Linked DNA regions of Homo sapiens. The protein of the gene in region 1 interacts with the protein of each later gene in a pairwise test. Each region holds a gene or a part of one and is shown in the gene's direction. Other genes may lie near its edges. The genes, in order: TENM1, NUBP1, PICALM and PTPN12.

Region 1 (6,855 bases):
ACTGTGAGTACAATGAAACTTCTTTCCTGTATAAGTTACTTAATCTCAGGTATGTCTTTATTGGCAGCGTGAGAATAGACTAATACAAATATTATTGTACTTACATTCTTATTATGAGGGTACTTAGAAACAAAACTGACATGTCATATTTTCCATTATGCATTCTTCTCACAGAATGCAACCTATAGATTAAAAATATATTTAAAAAATCAAGGCCAGAACATCTAAATATTGTTCTCTAGGAGTGAAATAGTCTAGATACACGGTAACAGTCACACAGTATATACTTGTTGATTAGCAAATTGTTCACACATCTTTGAACATTTCTTAGCTTCTTTAAGTCTCAATTTCTTTGCCTATTCCCAATGCTGGCACAGTTCCTGGAATATAGTAGATGTTCCATAATCACTTGCTGAATTGAATTTATGTAATTACATTAGTTTTGGGAATAAACATAAAAAGGTGTATGAGTGCATGTGTGTGTGTGTGTCTTTGTTAACAAAAAGGTATATATCTTAAAATTCCTAGCAAATTATTTTAATAATATACACTTGGCAACTGGACAACTGTCATATAGAGATTGCATGCTCCATTACAATCTGTTATATTTACATTGGCTATTCTGAAACTAGCAATTTAGTGTGTCTTCTTCCTGATATTCATATTTGAAATAGAAATTCTTGGTCCCATGAGCAAAACTACTTGAAAATTCTGCAATTTCATGTTGCTTAAATGTGTCTGGGGAATCTCTAAAGTTGAATAAATGCCTTAGGAAATCCACCTACAATATCAGGATATAGGCGTCTAGAAGCAGCAAATCAGTTCTTAGGAAACAGAGAAAAGTGACAGAGCCCTCTGTACTTCGGAATTAGGACTGGAAACAATGTTTTGAAGGAACTAAAGGGAGACAGGTGCAGACCAAATGAATTAAGGACACCAGGGAGCCACAGGAGACCAGTAAGGAAATGAGAGGGAAGAATGCTAGAGAAAATACAGCATAAAGAGGAGGTGGTAGAGAATTTCTAAAAAAAAATGATTACAGGGACTGCTGAATTGCCAGGAGAGAAACAAACTCGGCCTCCTTTCATGAAATCCCTAAGTATCAACTCTCCCTTTCTGCCAGTATCTTCAAGAAGAGTAACAAAGGAACAGCAAGAATGAGAGTGAGATAATCATGCTTTTAAATTCATATTCCATTTCCTTGGTCATTAGGGTTTGTCCATGTCCCATTTGGCCAGAATTCCCTTTTTGTTATGGGGAGTTCTTTTCTTAATCGCTGGTTACGGAAACACCCAGAGTATTTCCAGTCATTGGAGAAGTGACTGGCCAGATGTTTCTTTTTTTTCTCCTTCCAGAACTCTTTGGTAAGGATTGAGGAGGTATCCTGAAAGTCTTCCTTCCACAGTTCAGGGTTTGGGCAGTTCATAATGTGGAATCTTTATTTAGGATACTTAAATCTATATATGTTTATACAAATAACTTGTTTTTGTTTTGTAGGAGGGTAGTGGGTTTTAGGAAGGTTTCGTTTACATATTTGTGGCAAGACACAGGTTTTATACCCATCCTTTCACTACTGCTTTCTCAACAGCCCAACAGAGAGCCGGTGATAGAAGCAGTTGCTATGCCCCTACAGAGCCTGGTTGTCATCTTTTGTTTCTTTGTTGGCAGGGCGGTGGGGCGGGACGGGAGTGGGAGGGTGTTGAGCCGCAGGGATCCAAATGATTCCTGCCTGAAGCTGAAGACCTTGTTGGGAAGGGACGATGGGAATAAACGTGCTCTTGATTCCCTGATTCTTCCCCCTAGAGTGTTCAGCTCTTTGTATTTCCTCCCCTTGGTGGTGTGATGGTCTTACAATGCTCCCTCTTTGCAAATACCTATATCAAAAGCTGGGAAAATGGGAACACACGGTTCAGAGAACTCCCCCTGGCGTCACTCTGTACTACCTCTCTTTCTGAAACTGAATCTGGTCCCCCTGCTCAGGAGCACAGAGACCAGCCCGGAAGCCGACCTTGGGCAGCTGCCGCCACCCAGGGAAGGGAACAGTTGGAAGCTTTGGTGTTCGCCCACCGCGCCAAGAGGAACTCTTCCCGGTAACTAGCACCAGCCACGACTCCAAGCCTGCCTTATTGTAACCTCTAGCGGGTTCCCAACTCGGCAATAGCTTCTCGCTCTCCTGTCCCTGTTCTTGCGGAGGAAAATTTAAAACGTGCGTGCACATATACGCATTCACACACGCCCTTCTTTCTTTACTTAAAAAAAAAAAAATCAGTAAACGTCCTTCGCCCAAAGAATGTTCGACTCTTCACGCTCTCTTTTCTTTACCTAGAGGTCAGCAGTCCCTTGGGAGCACACGCGGTGCTCCCTAGCTGCTCTGCGCGCCCCCTACCTGCCTACGGCTGGGGTGGCACCGCGGGGCAGGAGGCCTGGGAATCCGCTAGACTCCTATTTCTCCAGTTTGTGCAGCTCCCCTGGCTCGGCACTTGGTATCTCCCACGGTCTTGCTCTCTGTGGGAAGCCGGAAAGAAGACTGCTGTGGGCGTCGCCGCCACCCCTCCCGGAACCAGAGCCTGCTCTAGCGTGCATCCAAGCCTCCTACTTCAGACTCACATCTGGCCCAGTCGGACAGATGTTAGCCGCTGGAGAGTGCCTCCATGCGAAGCGCCCCAAGTCCCGAGCATGCCCAGTCGGACTACTAAGGCTTCTGACGCGAGTTTCTGGGCGTGCAGATTCCGCTTCTCCGCTTTTTCGAGGAAGCTGAGGAGGGTTGGGAGGGAGGGAGGGATCCAGGGCTTGGGGCAGCGCGCTGGGTTCGCCCGAGTACGTGCCCTGGTGCCAGGCTGGGTGAGGGGCGGAGCCGTTTAGGGAGCCCAGGAACCTGGGCGGCCAGGCAGGGCAGGATCCCTTAGCGCTCCCCTCTTCCCCCAACCACCTTCAGGTGGACGTCGTTACTGCTGATCTGATGCGCCGCCAGTAGGCTGCATGTGGCCGGCCGGCCTTGGCGCTCTGGGGTCACACTGTCAGCAGGACGCAGTCGGCGGTGCACTCTCACCGACAGACGCACGAGAGCTTGTGGGTCGCTTATGCACCGCATTCACGGGCTTTTGGCTTTTCTGGAAGGCGGGGGAGAGGAGAATAAGAAAAGGAAACCAAACAATTTCTCTCCCCCCGCCCTTTTTTTTTTTTTTTTGCCAAAGTTATACTGGCAAAAGACTTCGCATTCTAAGTCAGTCCTGAGGCTTTGAACATAGAAGCAGTGATTGTGCTCCTGTGTGTGCGCTCGTGTGCGCGCGCGTGTGTGTGCACGCGATGTTTGTGTATGTCATGACTAGGTAACACTGTCCCAGGCTGATCCTGGGGTTGACAAATACTCATCCGAACCCCCCACCCCACCCCTCACCCTCAGGAGAAAGTAATTAAAAAAAAAAAAAAAAAAAAAACATCGAGTGAGTCACCTGGCCAGGCATCTATCCACTGTAGTAGGAAATCTAAATTTTGTTGATCCATATTTCCTTCCTCTGCTTCCATATCCAGCTTTCTCCTTCCCCTCTCCACCCTATAACACCCTGATCTTTCTCATTGCGACTTCCCTTCCTCTGCCCGATACTTGCTCCTTAAGCCCTTCTCCTCTTTCTCCTCCTCCTCCTCTCCCTCTCCTCCTCCCCCCACCTCCCTCCACCTCCCATCTCAGCTGCGGCTAAAACCTGGAGTCTTGGGGAAAAGGAGAAAAAAAAAAAAACCTCGGCTGTGAAGCTGTCAAACCGGGCATGCTCAGTAGACAGGGCAGGTTTTTTGGTCTCGAGTAGCGGAGAAACATTTTTTGCACCACCGCGACCAGCCTTAGAGCGCGGCGGCGGCGGCCACGGCAACATCAGCCCAGCCATCAGCCGAGCAGACGCCCAGCACCCGGGAGCGCGGCGAGCTTCGGCTCAGCCCGGAGTTCACCTCCGAGTGCCCCGGGGGCTGAGCTCACCCCTTCTGCTCTCTCACACACGAACACTCTCTTTCACTCACACACACACACGTATTCACACTCTCTCGCACACACATAGGACCCTGGGCGCAAGCACCCTTCTGGCAGCGGTCGTCCGCTGGTGCAATAGTAGCTAGGTTCGGTTCCTGCCTCCGGCGGCCGCCGGTTTAGAGCACCGCTGCCAGCAGCCGGAGGAGAGCAATGCGGGGGCCCGAGCGGCAGCTCGAACAGTAATGTGGATTTACAGTCGTTTCCCGCAGGAGTCGGCCGAGACGCCCTAAGTCCCGGGCACTGGCAGCGCCCGGCGGAGCCGAGCACCTGGCGAGGGGGCGGGGGAACAGCACCTGGGGACGCCGCCGAAACTTGCGCTTGGAATAGGTAGGTGCGTTTCTCCTGGCTCCCACCCCATTCCTTCTCGCTCCCGCCCGCCACCCCCAACCTTCTACCCCAAGGACTACAGGCGAACTTCGCCCCGAGGCTGCAGGCGGCGGATGGCGGCTCCTGGCTGTTAGCGGCCGGTTGAGTCCGCTCTGGGACTCCTGCCCGAGGTGGCAGAGCCTCCGCATCCTTCTTCTCCCGGTCTCCGCCGGCCATGGGGCTCTGGACCATCTGGGGCAGAAGGGAGGTCGGCCTTGTTCGCAGTTCAAGCTTCCAGCGGGCCCTGGGGACGCTGCCCTTCGAGGGCTCGCTGGGCTTCCCAGGCGGCACTTTTACCAACCAACTCCTTCAGTTCTGAGAGGGAGCCTCCTCGCCTCGGCTCTCGCGCAGAGCCCAGTCACTCTAACAAGTGGACCTGGGTGCTTGGGGTGAGGATGGGAGGCTCGGTCTAAAAAGAAAGAAAGGGGCGCTTCTCTGGCATCCCTCCCACCCTGGAGCGTTCGCCTGGGGCTCTGCCACTGGGGTCCAGGTCCTGCTGTCTCCGCAGAGAATATGCCCAAGGGCTAGGACGCACTTTAGTACCTGTTTGCTTCTGAATTTCTATTTGAGCCTCACTCAGGGAGCCCGGGTTCCCGGGGGAACTGCAGGACCTCCTAACCTACGCCGCCGTCGAGGGCCCCACCCGATGCGTCCTCCCTATACCTTTGTCAATCTTTGTCAAAAGAGATAGTCATTACAACCCAGGCGGTGCTCCAGGAGCCGTCGGTGTTGACTTTAACCATGCGCTCCAATGTGCGGGTTTGTGTGTTTCCGCATTTCATCCAGAGACTTGGTCCCCGAGATTCAGCAACGGCCAGCATATCTGCGAGCGCCAAGCACCCGCTAGGCAGGCTTGGGGAAATGTAACCTCACTTTCTTCCACTCCATAACAGGAGGATTGCCAATTTAGTTTCAGGATGCTTTGCCTAGAGGCGGAGAAGGGGAGATTGTTAGCGCTACTTGGTGAGTGGATGTGTTTGCAGTCAGGAGTGTATTTAAACATTTCAGTGAACCCGATGCAGTCAGTTGTTTACAATTGCGGAGACAGAGGATCTCACTCCACTAGTAGATGTTTCCACGTCTGTGTCGCCACTGGGAGAGTAGGGGCGGGGGCGGGGGCTGGTTTGCAGCTCGTACTCGCCGTCGGCAGCTTCGGGTTGAGCAGATCTGCATCACTGCTACTGGCGATATGCTAATAGGGGTAGAAAAGCTCTACATCTCCAATATGAAGCAATTGGTCAGTAAACGTCCTGAACTTAACCGTTGTTTTCCTGGGATACCAACCTGGAGGTGTTTTTGAGGTGGCCCAAAGAAATACAAAGAGAAGTTCTCAGTGCTACAGAAAGGAAATTAGTAGCCATTTGGTTTTAAAGACCAAAAGGAAACGAAACATCCCAGTGCACTCTAATAGGTACTGTTAGATTAGCGTTTAATTGATCGCGTTTGTGACGAGTAAGTGTCGCAGACAGCTTCCTTGAATTTTAGACTCTTGTTCTATGATTATAATTAACAAGCCAGGTAACAATGTACTGTGAGAATCAATTGCTACTCTTAACGTGTTTGAGGAGAACATGGCAAATGTCTGCTCTATTATATTTTTTGGCTGAAATAGCCCAGTTCATCTTCCTAGTCCGAAGTCTTCTGATCTGGAGCAGTAGATACTCCAGTGTTACCAAGAAAGGGAAGAGTCTAAGAGGGAAAGGCTTAAAAAACAAAATTAATGAAAAGGCGATCCACACCTTTAACTTCTGCTCCATGATTACCCAGCATCTGCTTGCTTGCTCACCCCCGCTCCTTGCTCTTCATATCTGCAACGTGGGGAAAAATGAATTTTCATAAGGCATAGTAAGACCCTCAAAGTACATAACTGGAGAAACAGAATCCCAATTTTGCCATTTTAGTTCAAGTTCATAACACTATTTTGTGATGCATTAAATAATTTACTATGGCAAAGTTGGGGTTTTTAAGAGTAATTAAAAGCTTTCAGGTATGACAAAATAATGTTGAAAACTTTTCATGATTAAAGAAAGTCGAAATATGCATTTAAAAAGGGATCAGGTAATTCCTAAAATAAATCCATGCTCTAAATATTATTTAAAAGTTTTCAGGTTGTTCCCCAGAATGTTTCTGAAAAACAGGTGTTTCTATAAAACAACTCTATGAAGAAATGTTAACATTTTCATAATAAAACTAGTAGAGTCCAGTCCTGAGAACAATGTCAGCTATACATAGCAGAAAAAAACCCCACAAATATTTTTGCATACATGAAGTAGTATTTTCCATTAGGTTTAGGTTCCAATTATGAATTAGGGACAGTCATGTCATTTGACAAAATATACAGTGAGGCTAAAGGAAAGAATGCTTTGTAGAATCATTGTGCTGTAAAGGTGATTAAGATTTCAAATATTCAAACGTTTAGGTGTATTAAAATAAAATTGTATTATACATAACTATCATCACATTCAAAG
Region 2 (7,027 bases), on another chromosome or scaffold:
AAATAAATATGGATTTGGCAGAGGGCATACATTAGTTCATTTTCACACTGCTGTAAAGAACTGCCTGAGACTGGGTAACCTATAAGGGAAAGAGGTTTCATTGATTCACAGTTCTGCATGGCTGGGAAGGCCCCAGGAAACTTAACAATCATGGTGGAAGGCAAAGCAGGCACATGTTACACAGTGGCAGCAGTGAGAGAGAGAGTGTGTAGGAGGAACTGTCAAACACTTACAAAACCATCAGATCTCGTGAAAACTCACTATCGAGACCAGCATGGGGGAAACTGCCCCCATGATCCAATCACCTCCCACCAGGAACTGCCTGTTCCTGTAGGGATGTAGGGATGATGGGGATTACAGTTCGAGCTGAGATTTGGATGGGGACACAGAGCCAAACCCTATCAGGGCAGAAACCTCTAAGGCTTTATGATCGCAGATCCACTGCATTGCAGCCATCCCCTCGGTTGCACAGACATTCCCTTTCTCGCACTTTGATGCTGGAATCACTGGTCTTTTCACCTTCGTAGGAGGTGTCACTCCAGGATGTCCGGAAAGAAATCAACTTCTGCCGCAAGGTGAAGCTGCCCATCATCGGGGTGGTGGAGAACATGAGTGGCTTCATCTGTCCTAAGTGCAAGGTGAGGGCGCGTGGGGCTGCCAGGCGAGCAAGATCTTGCTCTCATGGATGAGGAAACGATCGGAAGGCTGCTCTGCAAACTATTTCTGCTTTCCCTGTCATTTTGGGAAGTGGAATCACAATTAAAATCCCTTTCTGCTGACTAAAGGAAAGTTCTTTAGGTGTTAAGGGTTCCACATTCAAACTAAGCCTTTTTTTTTTTTTTAAGTTTCTTTAAAATGTGGTCCATCCTTGTGATTCTGCAAAAAAATTATGTTTCCTCCCCTTTGAATTTGCCTTGCAGAAAGAATCTCAGATATTCCCTCCCACAACCGGGGGCGCGGAGCTCATGTGCCAGGACTTGGAGGTCCCTCTCCTCGGCAGAGTGCCCCTGGATCCGCTCATAGGTGGGTGACCCCAGTGTGGGGCGGCACCTCACTCCTCGGTCAGCCCCACAGGCACGGGTCGGGCACAACAGGGGGCGGCTACAGAGAGGGGCAATGGAAGGAGGAGGGTCAATGGGGCGCTGGAGCCAGACCCACCCTCCAGCTGGCACCCCAAGAGGCCACCGGGAGAGAGGCCGAGACCCCTGCGGGCAGGTAGCGGGAGCAAGCAGGCCTCAGGCAGAGGGGTGAGGCCTGGAAGAATGGGGTAGAGGTTGGTGAGGGTGGTGGTGGCAGGGGACTGAGGAGGGCACCCGATAGAGGGGCGGCTCCAGGGGATGCACATGGCGTCCAGGTTACAGAGGAAGGCGGCCTGAGGTGAAAATCCCTTAGGAAGGGGCCGGGCCTCCTGTGCCCGGAGAAGCCAGCACGGCACAGATGAGGCCCCTTTGTCTCCAGCACCGGGACAGACCGGAACGCGGATCACTGGCCTGCGAGCAGGGGCCAAGTTCCCAAAAAATGCTCTTCTTAAGTACGTGGGTCTCCCAGGATCCCAAGAGATGCCCACTCCCTGAGTGGCCCTGAGGCTGAAGGAGGGACGGGGTTTCACGTCTCCACCCACACGCCCGCCGGGCGCCCACTCGCCGCGGGGCGCTGGGCAGGGCCTACACTCGAAGCTGCTCCCCCAGGAGGCTGCTGTCCCCCAGGACCGCGGAGCCGGGCGGGCCTCCGTTACTGGGGCCCTTTAGTGGGGCTCCTGCGGGGCGTCCAGCACTCGCCTTTAGGTCTGAGGGGAGAACAGAGAGAGAAGGCTGGAGGGGAGGCCGGGATCCAGGAGTGCCGGCTGCACCCATGCCTCGGAACTTCCACTCCATTTGTCAGGGAACCAAGGCCAGTGTGAGGTGTCTGTGCCGGGACAGGAGAGAGGGGCCGGGCGGGTGAAGTATGGCCTGGCCAGGAGAGGGTGGGGGCCGCGTGCTTGGGGAGAGGGCGGGGCCCGTGGAGAGCCTGGAGGCGGGGAGGGCGGAGGCCACGTGGGGAGCCTTGGGGAAGGGCTGCATGGGGAGAATGGGAGCCTGTGGGAAACGACTGTCAGTGTCATGTGCCTGGGAACAGGAGGCTCAGGAGTGGCTGCCCTGGGATAGGGGTTCAGGATGAGGCCCTGGGTTCTGGCGTTGGTGTAGAAAGGAAGGGACACACACAAGAGAGAAAGTGACGGCATCTGAGGGTCAAGGTTGTCCCTGCTGCCAGTACAAGTCACCTGGAGGAGGGTCCGTCCCTCAGAGACAGTGAAGCAGGGGTGGTAGAGGGAGGCCGGGCCCTCTGGGGTGCTGCGGCTAAGGGGCTCGGGGGCTCAGGTTGTCAGCAGGTTCTGGGGTCCGTCAGGAGAAGGTGGTTCATGTCCGTGCAGTTGAGTTTTGAAGCCACAGGACATGGACAGGATTGCCAAGGGGCCGTGCAGAAAGCGGGAGCCAGGAGGACAGTGTTGGGGGATGGCTGCCTCGAGGAAGTGGTAGGGGGGTAGGGTGCGAGGGCCACTCTGAAGATGGGAACAGCCCGGGAGAACGCCAGAGACCCCATGTGCCCAGGAGGCTGTGTCCCCAAATCCTTTTTCCCTTATTCCCACATCCCACAATACTTCTCTGGCATGTGATTTCCCCAACAACATGCAGAAAAGTACAGCTGCTTTCTCAACCTTCCCCAGCATCATAAAACACTCACCAGGCAGCTTTTGCAGTGGCCGGAAGTGGTGATGAGAGCTGCCCTCTGAGGCCCCTGGAGGCAGTTGGGCTGCATGAATGGATGTGATTGGGGACAGGAGCTTGCAGCAGCCCAGGGCACATCCATTCCTGCCAGCCTGCACCTCTGCCACAGTTCAGCTCTGCCGAGATGGGATTGGTGGGCAGGACGTTTGTCAGGGGAAACATCTGTGGGAGAAAATGACAAGGGAGAGCGTTAGCCCACGATGAAGGAGTGGGGGAAGGAACATATCAGCCCGAAAGAGCATCACGGCCCATAGGAGTATCTCAGCCCCTGGAAGCATCTCAGCCCAAGGGAGCATCCCAGCCCTCAAGAGCATCTCAGCCCATGGGAGCATCCCAGCCCAAGGGAGTATCTCAGCCCACAGGAGTATCTCAGGCCACGGGAGCATCCCAACTCAAAGGAGCATCTCAGCCCACAGGAGTACCTCAGCCCATGGGAGCATCCCAGCCCAAAGGAGCATCTCAGCCCACTGGAGCATCCCAGCCCAAGGGAGTATCTCAGCCCACAGGAGTATCTCAGCCCACGGGAGCATCCCAACTCAAAGGAGCATCTCAGCCCACAGGAGTATCTCAGCCCACGGGAGCATCCCAGCCCGAAGGAGCGTCTCAGCCCACTGGAGCATCTCAGCCCATGGGAGCATCTTAGCCTGCTGGAGCACCTCAGTGTACTTTGCTTTTTGGCATCTCAGTCTGCTGGAGTATTTGTCTATTGGAGCATCTCAGTCTGCTGGAGTGTGGCAGTCTATTGGAGCATCTCAGTCTGCTGGAGTATGCCAGTCTGTTGGAGCATCTCAGTCTGCTGGAGTATTTGTCTATTGGAGAATCTCAGTCTGCTGGAGTATGCCAGTGTGTTGGAGCATCTCAGTCTGCTGGAGTATGTCAGTCTATTGGAGCATCTCAGTCTGCTGGAGTATTTGTCTATTGGAGCATCTCATTCTGCTGGAGTATTTGTCTATTGGAGCATCTCAGTCTGCTGGAGTATGTCAGTCTATTGGAGCATCTCAGTCTGCTGGAGTATGTCAGTCTATTGGAGCATCTCAGTCTGCTGGAGTATGTCAGTCTATTGGAGCATCTCAGTCTGCTGGAGTAGGTCTATTGGAGCATCTCAGTCTGCTGGAGTATGTCAGTCTGTTGGAGCATCTCAGTCTGCTGGAGTATGTCAGTCTGTTGGAGCATCTCAGTCTGCTGGAGTATGTCAGTCTGTTGGAGCATCTCAGTCTGCTGGAGTATGTCAGTCTGTTGGAGCATCTGTCTGCTGGAGTATGTCAGTCTGTTGGAGCATCTCAGTCTGCTGGAGTATGTCAGTCTGTTGGAGCATCTGTCTGCTGGAGTGTCTTGGCTGCTGTCGAGGAAAGCTGGGCACAGCCACCAGGGCATTCCTGAGCCCACTTACCCATCAGAGGGGCTGCATCTCCCAGAAGCGTGCCTGCCCGAGTGCCATGCTCGTCTCAGTCACTAGCTAGGAGCAGCCTGGGAGTGGCATTGCCTCAACACAAACGTGGTGGTGGATTTTGGAGCATGGCAGCTGCTGCCAGAGATCCAAGAGGTGTGTCCTTATGGCCATCACAATTGCCACATTTTCCAAGGTTTAATGAAGAGCTAGAAATCTATATCCTTACCCAAAGTCTCCTGATACTAAATGATAGCAACTAACTCCATTAAATACACACACACACACACACACAACCATGCTCTAGCCTGGGTAACACAGGAAGATACCTCATCTCTTAAAAAAAAAAAAAAAAAAAAAAGGAAAAAATTCACCCAGTGTGGTGGCATGTGCCTGTGGTCCCAGCTACTCAGGAGGCTGAGTTAGCAGGATCACTTGAGCCCAGGGAGGTTGAGGTTGCAGTGAGCCATGATCACACCACTGCACTCCAGCCTGGGCGACAGAGCAAGAACCTGTCTCAAAAAAAAATTTAAAAATGGCATGCTTGCTGACCCACCCAAATATGTCCACGGGCCCAGCCACAGGCCTGCCCTTGCCATTGTCTGACAGATCAGGAAGTGACCTTGGGGCTATTAGATCCTGATACGGCTTTTCTTCCAAAGAGCCAGCAACCTCCATCTTCCCACCTCCCTCACACCAAGCCCTGGCATTGGCCCTGGTCTTTCCTTTCAGGGCCACTTTTCACAAAGAAACAAAGTTCCAGGTGGTTCACAAGAGCTAATTTCAAAGCAGAGGAGCCACCAGTGACAGCTGCGAGGCTCATTCTGAGCTGAGAACATTAAGTGCCTTCTAGTGGGCATGGTCCTGTGTGTCAAATGGCACATTGCAGAAGCTCACCTTGAGGGGAAGCCACAGATAGCAAGGCCAGGGAGTGCCAGAAAGGAAGGGGTGGTTAACACTGTCACCCACCCAAGAGGGTGGAGCATGAGGGCCAAGTGACAGACACGCATCTGGCAAGGTCACTGGGGACAGAGTGGGGGAAAACCCACCTTCCTAGGAACAGACAGGAAGGCATGAGGACAGCACTTCAGTCTCCTCTGGGGACATGGTGGCAAAGAGTTACAGATGCCAGCGCTCTGGTGCTATGGGTCCTGGTCCCGGTGTGCTGAGGATCACAGGAAGGGCTGGCCTCAGAGCCCTGCTCCGCCACCACTAGCTGTGGGACTTGGGCTAGTCATTTCCGCTCTCAGCCTCGATGGCCCCGTGTGTAAAATGCAGGTGACAGTGGTGCCTAGTGAGAGGGATCTGCCAGGGTGGGGTGAGAGGATGCCTGGGATCTCTTGGAACAGGGCTGTGCTCACACCAGCTGTTCTGATAATGCTGCCCGTTCTTGGAGAGGTGGGAGCCCAGGGGGAAATGCAGTTAGGAAGGGAAAACACTAGAGCATATATGTGTGTTGGGGGCTGGGGAGCCCTCTGGGGAAGGGAGACCTGGGTGAAAGTCAGGGACAGAAAGTAGCCCCAGCATGACTATTCTGGGATCCCCAACCTCCCAGGTCTGGCCCAGCGAACGTGCACTCAGGGGCCTCCCTAGCGAGTTCCACATGGTCTCATGGGCCCAGCGTTAACGGCGGAGGATGTCCAGGTTCTTGGTGTCTGGAACAAAAAATTGGACAAAACGCACAAAGAAAGGAAGGAAGGAAGGGATTTATTGAAAATGAAAGTCAACTCCACGGTGTGGGAGGAGAACGGGCCTGAGAATAGGGGCTCAAAGGCCCCATTACAGAGTTTTTGTGTTTAAATACCCTCTACTTGAGGTACGCCCTATATAAACGAAAAGGATGAAGTAAAGTTACAAAGTCATTTACGGCATACGTCCTATGGAGAGGACATTTCCTGTTATGGCTCAAGTGCGAATTGGCCTTATGTTCCCTGCCTCTGGACCCTATTTTCCTGACTCACTGGGCCATATGGGCTCCCCATCTCCCACCAACCCCTCCCCACAGGCTTCTTCCCCGACTTGGACTTCCCTGTCCCACAGGGCGACACAGTAGTGAAGTTGAGGAAATGATGAGTGCTAGGTAGGAACCCCTCCTGGGGTTCACCTGAGGCTGGTGACCGGCCATGGGCAGTGCAGTCACTTGCCTGTTTCGCCAGCAGCTCAGGCCTGGGGAGTGGGCAGAGCAAGCTGATGGCAGGTCCACCCACGACTGGGGGCTGGCAGGGCAGACTGGAGGCGAGAACACCCCCATTGACCCCTAGCCCCTTGTGTCCTGTCCACCTGGCTCTGGGATAACATGGTCCTAGAGAAACCTGGGTGTGCATAGGAGGGGACTGGAACAATGGCCACATGGCGGGGAAAGACTAGCAGACTGATAGACACCAGCACAGATGACCTGGAAGATAAAATTATACACAGACAAAGCAGCAGGCAGAATGTGTGTGTCATGTGCTCCCATTCGTATTTTAGGTATATGAGAGTGTGTGTATGTGTGTGCGCACACATGCAAGTGTGCACATTTATATGCGCATAATCTTTCTGGAAAGACACCTAGAACACTAGTAGCCCTTTTCGGACTTGGCCTTTTATGCCATATCCTTTTGCATTCTGTACTTTTTTTAACCATGTGCATTCATGATCCTTTCACTCAAAAGCTAATCTCTTAAAATGCAGACTCCTGGGCCCATGTGGAAGCTGCTGAATCAGTTCTCTGTAGGGCCCTGGAACCTGCATTTTCTGTACACCACCTGATTATTTAGCCACGCTGAAATGCTGGCTGGGGACCCTGCTGGAAGGAAGGTCCCTGAGACCCCACTGGTCTTTTCTACTTTGTTCTTCATTACGAGTGAAGCGGGCTCAAGATCTTCCCATTGTC
Region 3 (7,027 bases), on another chromosome or scaffold:
TAAACAAGGAGAAAAGGCAAAGACCTCCTTTAGAAAACCATAGCGTCATAAAGTTCCTTACAAATTCTATTTCGTCTGTTTGTAACTTTAAGGCTTTGATGAACTAGGTGGACTTCTCAAACCAACAGTGGCCTCTCAGAACCAGAACCTTCCTGTTGCCAAACTCCCACCTAGCAAGTTAGTATCTGATGACTTGGATTCATCTTTAGCCAACCTTGTGGGCAGTAAGTAGTCTTTGGATACGTTAATCTTCTTTTATGTTGTTTTATTAAACTGCGTCTCGTGTTATAAAATGCTTTTTTGTTTTTCTCCTTTCCTAGATCTTGGCATCGGAAATGGAACCACTAAGAAGTGAGTGTTTAATATACACATTGTTTTCTCCGTGTGTTATTTAGTGTTTTCTCCATGTGTTATTTGGAGGGTTGATTTGGCTTTCCTCTCAAAAATATGTGTAGAGATATCAAGTCTGCATCTTTTTTTTTTTTTTTTGACACGGAGTCTCGCTCTGTTGCTCAGGCTGGAGTACAGTGGCGCAATCTCGGCCCACTGCAAGCTCCGCCTCCCGGATTCACGCCGTTCTTCTGCCTCAGCCTCTCAAGTAGCTGGACTACAGGCACCCACCACCATGCCTGGCTAATTTTTTTGTATTTTTAGTAGAGACGGGGTTTCGCCGTGTTAGCCAGGTTGGTCTCAATCTCCTGACCTCAAGTGATTTGTCCACCTTGGCCTCCCAAAGTGCTGGGATTACAGGCATGAGCCACCACGCCCAGCCTCAAGTCTCTATCTTACTCTGTTCTATATAAGTATATAGCTAAGGAAACTTTATAATTAGAGACATTTAATATTCTCACTTATGTTTATTTAAAGTGATGTAAATTGGAGTCAACCAGGTGAAAAGAAGTTAACTGGGGGATCTAACTGGCAACCAAAGGTTGCACCAACAACCGCTTGGAATGCTGCAACAATGGTGAGTTGAAAAAGCTCCTGATAGACTAACAGTTGAATAATTTAGTTAAATATGTAACATGAAAATGTTTTTAAAGTGATAGACATAAATAGAAGGATTGTTACTGAGTTTAGAAGTATAAGTAATTGTATTTCTTTCAAAGGAAGCTGGTTGCCTATATTTACCAGATACATTTTAGTGGCTAACAAGTATTTAAGGGTTACTTTGTGCCAGACATATTCCAGTAAATAATAATGTTTTATTTTTTATAATCCTCCTATTAATGTGTTAGTCACTATTATTATCCCTATTTTACAGATGAGGAAGTGGAGGCTCAGAGTTATTAAGCAATGTGCTCAGGATTACAGAGATCTTAAATGATGAGTTGAATTTTTATAACCTAGGCAGCCTAACTATAGAACATATGTCCTTAATCACTACTCTATATTACTGACCTCAAATTTTTTATTTATTTTTCTAAAATACAAAATCTTGTGATTTCATTATTGGTAAAGAAACTATACTTGCTTCGGTTTTGTCATATAATTTATATATATGACAATGTGTTTGGCAATTATATATATGTCATATAACTTACACAGTTGATACTCATTATTTGTGGCAGTTAAGTACTTAAGTCACCCCAAACACTGAATTAGTGAACACTGAACCCTTGCTGGGGGAAATATATGCATATATGTATATGTCACATAGACGGTCCTTTTAGAAAACCTCATTCTAGTATATTCTATTTATTTTATGAAAGAGGAAATAAAGTTCAGAAGTGTTAAGTGACTTGCTTAAGGCTGTCGCACTAACTGGTGCCAGAGTTGGAATTTTAGCCCTGTCCAGCTGGCCCCAGAGTCAGAGTTTCTTGCAGTATGATGGACTCCCCATCCTCCTTCTCTATCCTCTGGTCTGGTATGAGAGCTGAACCAAGGCAGAGTGTCCTTTGTTCCATCTCAGCTGGAGGTGAACTGTATTGGATGAGTCAAATTTTTGCCCCTCTGCAAATGAGCATGAATGGCCTTGAAAGCACCAGGAGTGTTGATTTTTGGTGTCACAAAGTTTATCATGTAGGTGAATTTGCAAATATGGAATCCATGAATAATGAGGATTAACTGTATTTTCTAATTAAATAATTAGCATCTAGTAATGAAGAGGTTTTAGTATGTTTTAATTACTGTAAGGTATGGTAGACCCAGAATAGCTCTGTGGCTATTCTCCTGTCCTTGGCCAGTTTCTATCTTACCAACCAACAAATTTTCGTCAGTCAAAGAAAACTCCTTGTGGAAAAGTTTGAAGCATTCTTTCTCCAGACAGTAGGCTAGTAGCTGTGTTTTGATTACACGGGCTACACGTTACTGACAGCTGTCCTGTTACTGTTAGAGGCTGCGGTTGTCCTTATAGCCACTTCCAGAGCACTGCCCTGTTTTCCGTGGGTTAATGATATGTTAAAATTAGTAGGACTGAGCTAAAAATAGTATGTTTGTTAAAATTTGTGCATTTTATTATATAGCTTAAGACTTCATAAATGGAAAGTAATATTGAGATTTAGCTACCTTTTTAAGGCAGTGTTTTTTTGTTGTTGTTTTTGTTTTCTTTCAGACAGTGTTCATTGCCATCACTAATTTTATTATTTTGTATTTTTTTTTTTTTTGTGACGGAGTCTTGCTCTTTTGCCCAGGCTACATTGCAGTGGCGCGACCTCAGCTCACTGCAACCTCTGCCTCCCAGGTTCAAGTGATTCTCCTGCCTTAGCCTCCCGAGTAGCTGGGATTACAGGTGCCCACCACCAGGTCCAGCTAATTTTTAAATTTTTAGTAGAGACTGGGTTTTATTATGTTGGCCAGGCTGGTCTTGAACTGCTGACCTCAAGTGATCCACCCGCCTCAGCCTCCCAGAGTGCTGGGATTACAGGCCTGAGCTACCACGCCCAGCCTATCATCACTGATTTTAAAACTTTGCATTTAAGTAGTTTAGATTTTTATACACACAAATACACAATCTTAAACATGTAAATGTTGCTGTCTTGAGGGAATTGGAGCATGTATCACCCCACTTCTAAAGATTTTTTTTTTCCCTAAGTGCAAAGCAGTTGAAAAGCAGATTTAAGTTGAAATCCATCTCTTTGACTCTGAATCCAGTCTTCTTCCCACTATAACACACCTCACTGACTAGGGTATGGTAGGAGTTTAGAGTAGTGGATTTTATGGACTCGTGTGAATTATGACATTGATGATGTATGAGGAATGATATAAATACCAGTGCTGCTATTAAAATATAATGAATATTTTCTTATATTAAGTTAGTATTAATCTATATGAAGTATTAGGAGTTCATAGATAGCACTTAAGACTGACTACTAAAATGTAGTAGGTATTTAGTCATGTAGAATTTGTATTTAAGTTGATAAGGTAACAGTCTTTATCTTGCTGTGTTATATATGGTAATGTGTATCATCTCCTAAGGATTTTGCTTAAATATTTATATGTATTTTATGGAGTTTTCTTTTTAATGGCTAATGTTTGGGGCTGATAATGTGATTCACTACTTAAGATAAACTGCTGCTTTTGACATTTCTTTACATTTCTAACCTTTTTATTAATCCTTAAACACTGTCAAGGTTTTTCAGTGTTTTTTAAATTTAACACAAATTCATTGGAATTTTATTAAAATATATATTATACTACAAATTCTTTTAATTAGTGCTTGCTTTTTTTCTGTGGTAGACATCTGATGCAACCCTGTTTATGCAATGCCCAAAATTTTGCACTGTTGACACTGTTGATAGAATTGATGTTTTAATGGTACTTGTAATCAATAAACTATTTTTTATATAAAGAGATGAGGCCAAAGACTACAATTCCCTTGTCAACCTTGATAGTGTTTTAGTATAGATGTTCTTTCATTAGATACTGGAAATACAAGGGATTTTAGGTAGTTAGTGAATGTACATGTGAACTAAAATGCTCTCTGTGTATTTTCTGTTGTGTAAGTACTTGTTCTAATCCAGTGTTATTGCATTATGTAATTGTTCTCCCTGGGAAAAACAGAATGGCATGCATTTTCCACAATACGTAAGTGACCAAAAACGAGCCTTTTTGCAATAAATTGGCATGCTATTAACCACTGCTGTAGCAGAATCTCATAACCTTTCAGCTATTACTTGTTTTCACATTCAGATTTTCAATGTGCCAGAAATTCTTCCTAGCATCTACTGATTTCATGGGTGTGTTGCAGAATTGATTCTGATGGTGGCATGGGAAATACCGATTTTTTTTCTTGCTTAATATTCCGCCATTTGCTGCCAGATGGCTGGGTGTCTGTGTGTGTATCTGTGCTGCCACTATGCACTTGATGACTTCTGAATGAAGGGAAATGTTGATTGTGGTAATGTTTAAAATAACAACTGCATGAAATCTTACAGGCTTCTGCTCTTCTTGGCAGTTTGTCTACTGCTCTTGCAGATCTTGGTTTTAAGTAGGGAGAGACCAATAAGTCCTACACGCTCACCCGAATACTAAACTTATAACTATTCACTTTAGTGTTATTTTTTTAAAGTTATATTTCATTTAATTTCTCCATGCATATGTTCAAATTGCCATATAATTTCAGTTATTTTATGTTTTAGCAGTGTTATTGGTCTTTCACCTTTATTCAATTTCAGTTTTCATTATGAGAAACACACACAGGAAATGTTGTTAAGACAGCAACTATATCTAAAATGATTCTGTTCTCAAATTGTATGTTTACAGATAATCAAAGTAGTAGGAAGAGGGGAACTTAAACATCATAGTGATAGATGGTTCTTTTAAACATGAAAGCATAAACTGACCTAATTGATTGTTCCTCTTAAATAATTTTTGGAATAAATTAGAAAGCTAACGTACATACTCTATATAAGAACTATGGCTCATAGAAATAGTCATACTCAATAGTAGTTTGAAACCTTTGGAGTTTTTTGAAAAGAGTGAGTAAGATCCTTAGAAACTAACTTTTTGGAAGATCAGGTTATTGATTGATTTGAGATCTTTACATTTTTTTCTTTGAATGCTAAAGCAATCAGGTACCTAAGTAAGAAAACATTCAATAATACTTTTTCTGGGTAGACATTTTTTAATGATAGTGATAGGCTTTAAATTTTAGAACTATTTAGAACTATTTAAGATACTTTTTTAAATCTAAAGATTTTTAAAGCTGTAAAAAGCATGATGAAATCTTAGATCACTGCTGTATCTAAGTTTAAGTGGTATAGTTATCCTTCTAATAAGTCTGCTTTTCTGCTAATTTCAAAACACTTTTTTTCACTGACCATTAATCGACAGTTCTTAATGATCACAAGTGTCACTTACTCACAGCTGTCTTAGCAATTCTTTTTAGTGGAACTACAGCTACTAATTCCTTGAACTCAGTTGACACACATGAGTTATACTTTCTTGTTCATTTTTCCTTTCACTATGTTAGGCACCCCCTGTAATGGCCTATCCTGCTACTACACCAACAGGCATGATAGGATATGGAATTGTAAGTATTTTCCTAGGTACAGCTTTTGGAAAAAATATTGATTCATATATAACATGTTTTTATTACAATTTAACCTAAAAAAGAATTTAGTGCTCCTCATACTCCTAGCCCTAGTGCCTAATGCAGTAGAACCATAGCATTGGTTTCATAAGTATGTCTAGAATAATCATTATACAAGAGATCTTATGCATTAATGTTCATAGTATTACTTGGTTTATTTTTCTCCTCGTAACTTTGCTGGGCCTTTTATATTTCAAACATTAATGTTAATTCTAAGCCTTTGTTGCTGTGACCATATATTAAATACCAGTGAGGTCTTATAACCTGATATTGTAGGGCATGGGAGGGATTAACACTTGAATTGTATAGAGATAAATTTAGTCTGATAAAGGCTAGAGAAATTTTCCTGTGACAATGATTATTACAGTACAAAAACAGTCTTTTAACCTTTCAAAATGCCACAATGTGCATTTTAGATTGCCCTTAGTTTCCCAACTCTCAGTATATAGAGACTCAATTAGAAAAGAAATGGTGCTAGTAGCTTCAACCCACTGGTATGTATTTGAGGAACTGTTCCTGGTAGAAGGCAGTACCGTGTCCCTTGGTATTGCTACTGTGCCTGCTATGTTACTTCTTTATGTATATGATATGGAAGTAACTCCTTTTATACATGTGGAGAAGTTTCACAGCTTTTTTTCATAGTCATTGCATTAAAATGTCTGCTGAGGCTGGGTGTGGTGGCTTACGCCTGTAATCCCAGCACTTTGGGAGGCCAAGGTGGGTGGATCACCTGAGGTTGGGAGTTCAAGACCAGCCTGACCAATATGGTGAAACTCCGTCTCTACTAAAAATACAAAAATTAGCTGGGTATGGTGGCGCACACCTGTAATTCCAGCTACTTGGGAGGCTGAGGCAGGAGAATGGCTTGAACCCAGGAGGCAGAGGTCACAGTGAGTTGAGATCATGCCACTGCACTCCAGTCTGGGCAACGGAGCAAGACTCCATCTCAAAAAAAAAAAAAAAAAAAAAAGTCTGCTGAGAAACTCAGGCCATAAACTTAAAATGAAGCTCTAAATGCAAATAGTAGTCTGCTTGAAACAATAAATAGAACTTCTTGAAAGGAAAGATTTTAGAGCATTGCATTTTAACCAAAACAGTATTCTGTTTGTGCATTATTTTTACACTAGGTATTGTCACTTACTAGGTTAATTTTATACCCTGTAGTGGTAATTTTTAAAGAAACATATTTGGTTGAGATTGTATTTTCAGTTACTCAAGAAAGAGTTAACCTCTGGTTTGTAGTTTAAGCTCTTTCTTGATTCTTATATGAAATAAAATGGAAGAACTAGAGCAGGCTTATTCAGAGAATCAACTGTCTTCACTTGTGATCACTTGCATAATGGCAAAAGTACTTGATTTGTTATACAAATTTACTTTGAAATTTCTTAGCAGCGAAGACAGAGTCTTAAGTTTTCTTGATGTCTAAACCTGATAAATTTGGAAACTCTTAGTCTTAATCATTTTATCTGTTGTAATACAATAAAGTTTACATTT
Region 4 (7,027 bases), on another chromosome or scaffold:
TAACTTGATTCCCAAATTCACTTCTCTTATTTGTACATATTGTTTGGGTCTATCTGTTAGGAGACTTTATCTGATAGGAGACTTCATTTTAAGGTTTTTAAAAAAATTTTTTTTTTAGTGTTTTTTGTTTTGAGACAGGGTCTCACTGTGTCACCCAGACTGGAATGCAGCGACGTGATCGCAGCTCACTATATAGCCTTGGCCTCACTGCTGGGCTTAGTGATCCACCTACCTCAGCCTCCCAAGTAGCTGAGAGCACAGGCTTACGCCTCAATGTCCAGCTAGTTTTTGTATTTTTTTGTAGAGACAGGGTTCTGCTATATTGTTCAGGCTGGTCTTGAACCCCTAGGCTAAAGCGATCCGTCCACCTCAGCCTCTCAAACTACTGGCATTACAGGTGTGAGCCACTGCCTAACTTTTTCAAGACTATTTTTTTTAGAGCAGTTTTAGGTTTACAGCAAAATTGAGAGGAAGGTACAGAGATTTCTTATATACACCCTGTCCCCACACATGTAGCCCTCATTATCAACATTCCCTACCAGAGCAGTCTCTTTGTTACAATTCACAAACCTACATTGACAAGTCATTATCACCAAGAGTTCACATTTTACATTAGGGTTCATTCTTGGTGCTATACATTCTGTGGGTTTGAAGAAATATATGATGACGTGTATCCACCATTGTGGTATCATACAGAATAGTGTCATTGCTCTAAAAGTCCTGTGCTCCACCTATTCATTCATCTCACCCCCTTCCCAACCCTAGGTAGTCATTATTTTTACTGTCTCCATAGTTTTGCCTTTTTCAGAAGTCATATAGTTTGTTTTTGTTTGTTTGTTTGTTTGTTTTGAGACGGAGTCTTGCTCTGTCGCCCAGGCTGGAGTGCGGTGGCACTATCTCAGCTCACTATAACCTCTGCCTCCTGGGTTCAAGCAATTCTACTGCCTCAACCTCCTGAGTAGCTGGGATTACAGGTGCGCGCCACCACACACAGCTAAGTTTTGTATTTTCGTAGAGATGGGGTTTTACCATGTTGGCCAGGCTGGTCTCGAACTCCTGACCTCAAGTGATCCACCTGCCTCAGCCTCCTGAAGTGCTGGAATTACAGGCATGAGCCACTGCTCCCAGCTCAGAAGTCATATAGTTTGAATCATACAGTATGTAGCCTTTTCAGATTGGCTTATTTCACTTAGTAATGTGCATTTAGGGTTCATCCATGTCTTTTCATGGCTTACTAGCTCTTTTTTTCCTTTTATTATTTTTAATTGACACATAGTATCTATACTTATTAATGGGGTACATGTGATTTTGGTACATGTATGTGTAATTTAAAATGTGGAGTGACTAAATCAGGATAATTAGCATGTCTATCACTTCAAACATTTCAAATGTTTGATGACTTTTAGAATTTTTTTATAATTATCAGGTACATCTGGAATTTTAAAGATTAATTTTATATTGTGGACTTTGATACAAGTATTTTATTTGTTTTGATGTGTCTTTTTGTTTTAACGTTTTCACTGACTTAGAAATGTTTCTCTTTATTTAGGAGGATGAACAAGCAAGAACAGACTACTTCATCAGGACACTCTTACTTGAATTTCAAAATGTAGGTACTTACCATTTATAGACTATCTGTAAGAATAGTTTTCAGGCTGGGTGCAGTGGCTCATGCCTGTAATCCCAACACTTTGGGAGGCTGAAGTGGGAGGGTGACTTGAGTCCAGGGGTTCAAGACTAGCCTGGGCAACATAGTGAGATCTTGTGTCTACAAAAAGAAAAAAGTTAGCCGGGCATGGTGGCATGTGCCCATAGTCCCACTCACTCAGAAGGCTGAGCCCGGGAGGTTGAGGCTGCAGTGAGCCATGATTGTGCCACTGCACTCCAGCCTGGGCAACAGAGGGAGACTCTCAAAAATGGTTTTGAGAATAGAGAATAGTTTTCAAAGAGAAGACATAGAGAGGGAGGGGAGCGTGGGCTGAAAAACCACCTATTGGGTAGTATGCTCACTCCTTTGGTAAGGATCATTTGTATTCCAGACCTCAGCATTATACAATACACCCATGTAAGCTGCACATGTACCCCTTAATCCAAAATAAAAGTTGAGGCCAGGTATGGTGGCTCACTCCTGTAATCCCCAACACTTTGGGTGGCTGAGGTGGGTTGGTCACTTGAGGCCAGGAGTTCAAGACCAGCCTGGCCAACACGGCGAAGCCCCATCTCTACTAAAAAATACTAAAATTAGCTGGGCATGGTGGTGCACACCTATAATCCCAGCTACTCAGGAGGCTGAGGCACTTGAATTGCTTGAGCCTGGGAGACAGAGGTTGCAATAAGCCGAGATGGTGCCACTGCACTCTAGCCTGGGCAACAGAGCAAGACTCTGTCTCAAAAAATAAAATAAAAAATAAAATAAATGTTTTAAAAATAGAAAATATAATACTACTACCTAAATGTTTTATTTGGTAAAATGGGTTTGCTAGAAAATTATTTTGCTTTATATCTGCAAAATGCAAATAATATATATAATATATATTATTATTTTGCTTTATATCTGCTTTATAGTTTTTTGTAAGTAAAAAAAGTAACAGCAATTTTTATTTTTAAAGCATGTGAAGTTAGTTTTTGTCTTTGCAAACTAATCAACTTTTAGCTACTAAAAAAATAAAACAAGCTATATAAATAGTATACTATGTTATTTAACATAATTAATGAAATTTGGTAATTTTTTAGTTACGAAGATGAAATGAGAGTGTAATATTTAGTCTTGACATTTATGCTTATCACATTACATAAAAAGTAATATTAATTATAACATACCCTAAATTTGTTAAATTTGGAATAGTTATACCTTCTTTGCAGCAAATATTTTTATTCTATTGCAGTAAGCAGGTTATTGCATTGTTTATATAATTATTACCCTGTTTTACTGGTTTACAATTTGTTAAAGAAAAGTCACTATCAAAGCTAAGTCTTCATTTAGATATATATTGTTTTTAGTTGAAACCCCCCACAGCGCCCCGACTTTTTTTTTTTTTTTTTTGGCAACAGGGTCTCACTATATATTGCCCAGGCTGGACTCAAACTCCTGAGCTCAAGCAGTCCTCCCATCTCCACCTTCCTAGTATCTGAGACTATAGGGATGAGCCACCAAACCCAGCTAAATTTTTTATAGTTTATAGAGATGAAGTCTTGCCATGTTGCTCAGGCTGCTGTCAAATTCCTGGCCTTGAGTGATCTTGCCTTTTGCATTGGCCACCCAAAGTGTTGGGATTACAGATGTGAGCCACTGAATCTGGACTGGTTGCTAATTTTTTAATCTACGGTAATAATAATAAGTACCTTAATGAATTTCTGTGGTAGATCAGGCATCTTAATTCTGCTAACTGCATCATATCCAGATACTGTTACGTCTGTTGCACATAGATGAAGATACAGAAGCTTTAAGAAGTTAAATAGCTTACCTGAAGTTATTTAGGAAATGGCCAAAGTAGGAATTTGAGTATGGTTTGCTTAGATTCCGAGTATTGCTCTTTCTGTTAAACACCTGCAATAACCATTCTCAAAACATTTGACATCAGTACTCCTTTACATTCTTCAAAGTTATTGAGGATCCCAAAGTTTTTGTTTCTGGGGGTTGTATCTTTCAGTATATACTATATTTGAAATTAAAACTGAGAAATTTTTAAAAAACATGAATACATAAGCATATATTGTATTGGCTGTTAAAGAATAAGGCACGTAACATTTTAGTATTATTCTGAGAATTATTTAAAGCTCATAGACTCCCTCAAAAGGGTTGAGGGGAGGGGGTACCCAGACCGTATATTGAGAACCACTAATCTGTAAGAAGACTAGTGAGTTTGGCATTGGACAAATTCATCTCTCCATTCTTTTTCAGTTTAATGTTCTGTTAGTCTTCTGATTACAATGAATACTACTCTAACCTACTCTAACATGGTGCTTACGGTATATTGCTCATCCATTTAATAGTGTAGATTAGTTAAATAGTATATATAGTGTTATGTTTACAGTACATGCTCTGGAAGTAGAACTGCCTGGTTTAGAGCCCACACTTGTCACTTCTTAGGAAAGTTTGGGCAAGTTATTTTATCTGTATATCTCAGTTATAAAATGAGGATGGTATTAACAGTACTTTCCTCATGGAAATTAAATTGTTACATGTGAAGCCCTTAGGTATTTGGCATGTGTTTAACAGTCAATAAGTGTTGGCTATTATTTATTTGGGTTTTTTTAAAAGCAGTGCTAAATGCCACACAAATTTCTTAGAAATGGCAGTTTAAATGAGCTGTGCAACTTTAAACTTTGCAAAGTATTTTCATAATTGTTGACTTTCTGTTTTTCTTGAAGGAATCTCGTAGGCTGTATCAGTTTCATTATGTGAACTGGCCAGACCATGATGTTCCTTCATCATTTGATTCTATTCTGGACATGATAAGCTTAATGAGGAAATATCAAGAACATGAAGATGTTCCTATTTGTATTCATTGCAGGTACAAAAGAATTTCCCAAGTTTATAAATACATTATTTAAGTTTGATGTTACACAAGGTTTTATTTCTGCATTAATATGTTAGTAATCTTGAATTTCTCCTAGCCTTGATACAATGTTTGGGACTAGGGCCTTGTAAGTTGATGTGGTCTCATTTGGTTGACAGACCGTTTAGAGTATTGTTGCATTAAAACACAGGATCATCTATTTGAAAATAGTATTCACATGGTGGGAAGCTATAGAACATACTCTTTTTACTGTTCACTGATTAGAGCATATAATCTCAGATCCTCATCATACTCTACTTTCTAAAGTCAGTATGGTAGTATTTTCTTTTAATCAATTTCCCTGAAACAATGACCAAGCAATTTTCATTCCTGATAAACACTGACATGAGATTTTTAAAAACAGGATATTGCTCTGATGCCCAGGTTGGAGTGCAGTGGCACAATCATAGCTTACTGTAAACTCAAACTCCTGGCCTGACGTGATCCTTCTGCCTCAGCTTCCCAAGTAGCTAGGACTACAGGCATGTGCTACCACACTGAACTAATTTTTTTTAATTAAAAAAAATTTTTTTTAAGAGACCAAGTCTTGCTCTGTTGCCCAGGCTGATCCGAACTCCTGTCCTCAAGTGATTCTCCCACTTTGCTCTCCCAGAGTCTTGGGCTTACAGGCGTGAGCCACTACGCCTGGCAACATGACTTTCTTTTTTTAATATATGTAAGATGTACATACGTAGGTCTTATTGATCTAAGATATCATCAATTCTAAGACACACCATTATTATATATATTAACAGTAAAAAAATCACTGCCAATTATAAGGGGACAATGTCATTTGTAAGAAGCCATTGGTGGTAAGATACATACCAATCTCAGAGCTGTTACATTGAGATGAAAAAGTGTGTTTTAGTTTGATGAAAAACTAAATGCTGTTTTTATTCTTGGGGAACATCAGTTTCCACGTTTGCACCACTTCCTGTCATATCATGAAATTTTATAATTTATAGCTACTGAAAAATTTAAAGCCGGAAGCAAGCATTCTTGTAGTAAAGTAATAAAAACTATTGATACACATTTACTAGACATTTTTATTATGTTTTATAGTAGATTACTTCATTATAAGGATTACATAAAATTCAATGATTACTGACCTAGTTAAGCTACCTCTGAATGTGAAAGGACAAGTATAGGTGCACCTACTTTAAATTGCACAATATAAATCTTTTCATTTATTCAAATAATATTTGAAGTTCAGTTAGGTTTTGCAAAATTACTCGTTTGGATGTGTTAAGAAATCATGTAAACTCTTCCTTTGACTTTGGGGGAATGAACATGAGATTTGTTTATTCTTGGGGGGCAGTTAATTTTGTATTCTAGAAGGGGGGTTAATGTATAATATATTTTAGCTAAGAGAAATCAGTTTAAGATAACCAACTTTTCTTAATCTAACATTTTGGCTTATTTCTGTCATCTGGTCATTCTCATACAAATAATACAAAGCTAAATATACATAATACATATGCACATATATGTATATGTATACATTATATGTAATACATAAAACAAAGCTAAATTTGTATTATGGATTTAGGAGTGTAATGGAAAATACCCCTTTAAGAGGAAAAGCACAAAACTGAATTAGTCAAGAAAATAATAAATGTTTGCAATAAGTGTCATGACCGGGTATAGTGGCTCAGTGCTTTGGGAGGCCGAGGCAGGATGATTGCTTGAGCCCAGAACTTTGAGGCTGCAGTAGACACCAATTACACTACTGCACTCCAGCCTGGGTGACATAGTAGACCCTATCTTTTAAAAAAAAAAAAAGAATATAGGTATCATTATAATATGGGTGATACAGGATATTTTGAAACCTAATTTTTGGAATTTCATTATATAGGTATGGGTTTCTACATAGTAGAAGCTACTTGAATCCTTAGACAGTTTTTCTACTCTGAATTTTTAGTTTACATTAGATTCTTCTAAAGGCCTTACAGTCATAGTACTTACTTCATAAGACTGCTATCAATTTATTCCTCTAAGGGACTTGTTATCTGCATTCACATTTGTTATAAAAAGTAAATGAGATTTTTCAAACTTAAGAGATTTATTTTTTATTATTTACATAGTTAAAATATTTTTTCAGTGGAGTTGAAGCATTGAAGATAGTTTTCTTATTCACTTGGTTTGACCGTAATGCTCATAATTAACGAAGTAAAAGGGCTACTTTTTATTCATGGGCCAGGAAAGTAACTTGCTGGTGGAGATGTGGGAATCAGTTAACAACTTGGTTCATTAAAACTATTTTTTTCTGTGGTTAATTCAGTGGTTAGTTGACCATTTAATTAAGTAGGATTGACCAGTTAAAAATAAACAATATGTTTAATTATAGAATTAAAAGATAAAGAAATTGCTTTCACTTTGACTTCTTATAAGTTAGTTAAAATAATTTCCTGTTCAATCATAAATCCATTTGTATAGGAAGGCTTTTCATCAAAAACTAAATTGACCGT

The links.
Region 2: the proteins of TENM1 (region 1) and NUBP1 interact in a two-hybrid assay, tested with the Homo sapiens proteins (one study listed by BioGRID).
Region 3: the proteins of TENM1 (region 1) and PICALM interact in a two-hybrid assay, tested with the Homo sapiens proteins (one study listed by BioGRID).
Region 4: the proteins of TENM1 (region 1) and PTPN12 interact in a two-hybrid assay, tested with the Homo sapiens proteins (one study listed by BioGRID).

Annotation. Positions count from the first base shown.
Region 1 is NC_000023.11:125,201,297-125,208,151, reverse strand, and holds the start of TENM1 (teneurin-1 isoform 1 precursor), read left to right. Parts: upstream 1-3,839; 5' UTR 3,840-4,348; exon of another isoform or gene 4,349-4,352; intron 4,353-6,855. UniProt on the Homo sapiens protein: Involved in neural development, regulating the establishment of proper connectivity within the nervous system. May function as a cellular signal transducer.
Region 2 is NC_000016.10:10,760,837-10,767,863, forward strand, and holds part of NUBP1 (cytosolic Fe-S cluster assembly factor NUBP1), read left to right. Parts: intron 1-75; exon of another isoform or gene 76-527; coding exon 528-638; exon of another isoform or gene 639-732; intron 733-920; coding exon 921-1,023; coding exon of another isoform or gene 1,024-1,027; intron 1,028-1,680; exon of another isoform or gene 1,681-7,027. UniProt on the Homo sapiens protein: Component of the cytosolic iron-sulfur (Fe/S) protein assembly (CIA) machinery. Required for maturation of extramitochondrial Fe-S proteins.
Region 3 is NC_000011.10:85,975,069-85,982,095, reverse strand, and holds part of PICALM (phosphatidylinositol-binding clathrin assembly protein), read left to right. Parts: intron 1-92; coding exon 93-224; intron 225-320; coding exon 321-351; intron 352-867; coding exon 868-967; intron 968-4,002; coding exon of another isoform or gene 4,003-4,026; intron 4,027-5,413; coding exon 5,414-5,473; intron 5,474-7,027. UniProt on the Homo sapiens protein: Cytoplasmic adapter protein that plays a critical role in clathrin-mediated endocytosis which is important in processes such as internalization of cell receptors, synaptic transmission or removal of apoptotic cells.
Region 4 is NC_000007.14:77,596,293-77,603,319, forward strand, and holds part of PTPN12 (tyrosine-protein phosphatase non-receptor type 12), read left to right. Parts: intron 1-1,549; coding exon 1,550-1,609; intron 1,610-4,371; coding exon 4,372-4,514; intron 4,515-7,027. UniProt on the Homo sapiens protein: Dephosphorylates a range of proteins, and thereby regulates cellular signaling cascades. Dephosphorylates cellular tyrosine kinases, such as ERBB2 and PTK2B/PYK2, and thereby regulates signaling via ERBB2 and PTK2B/PYK2.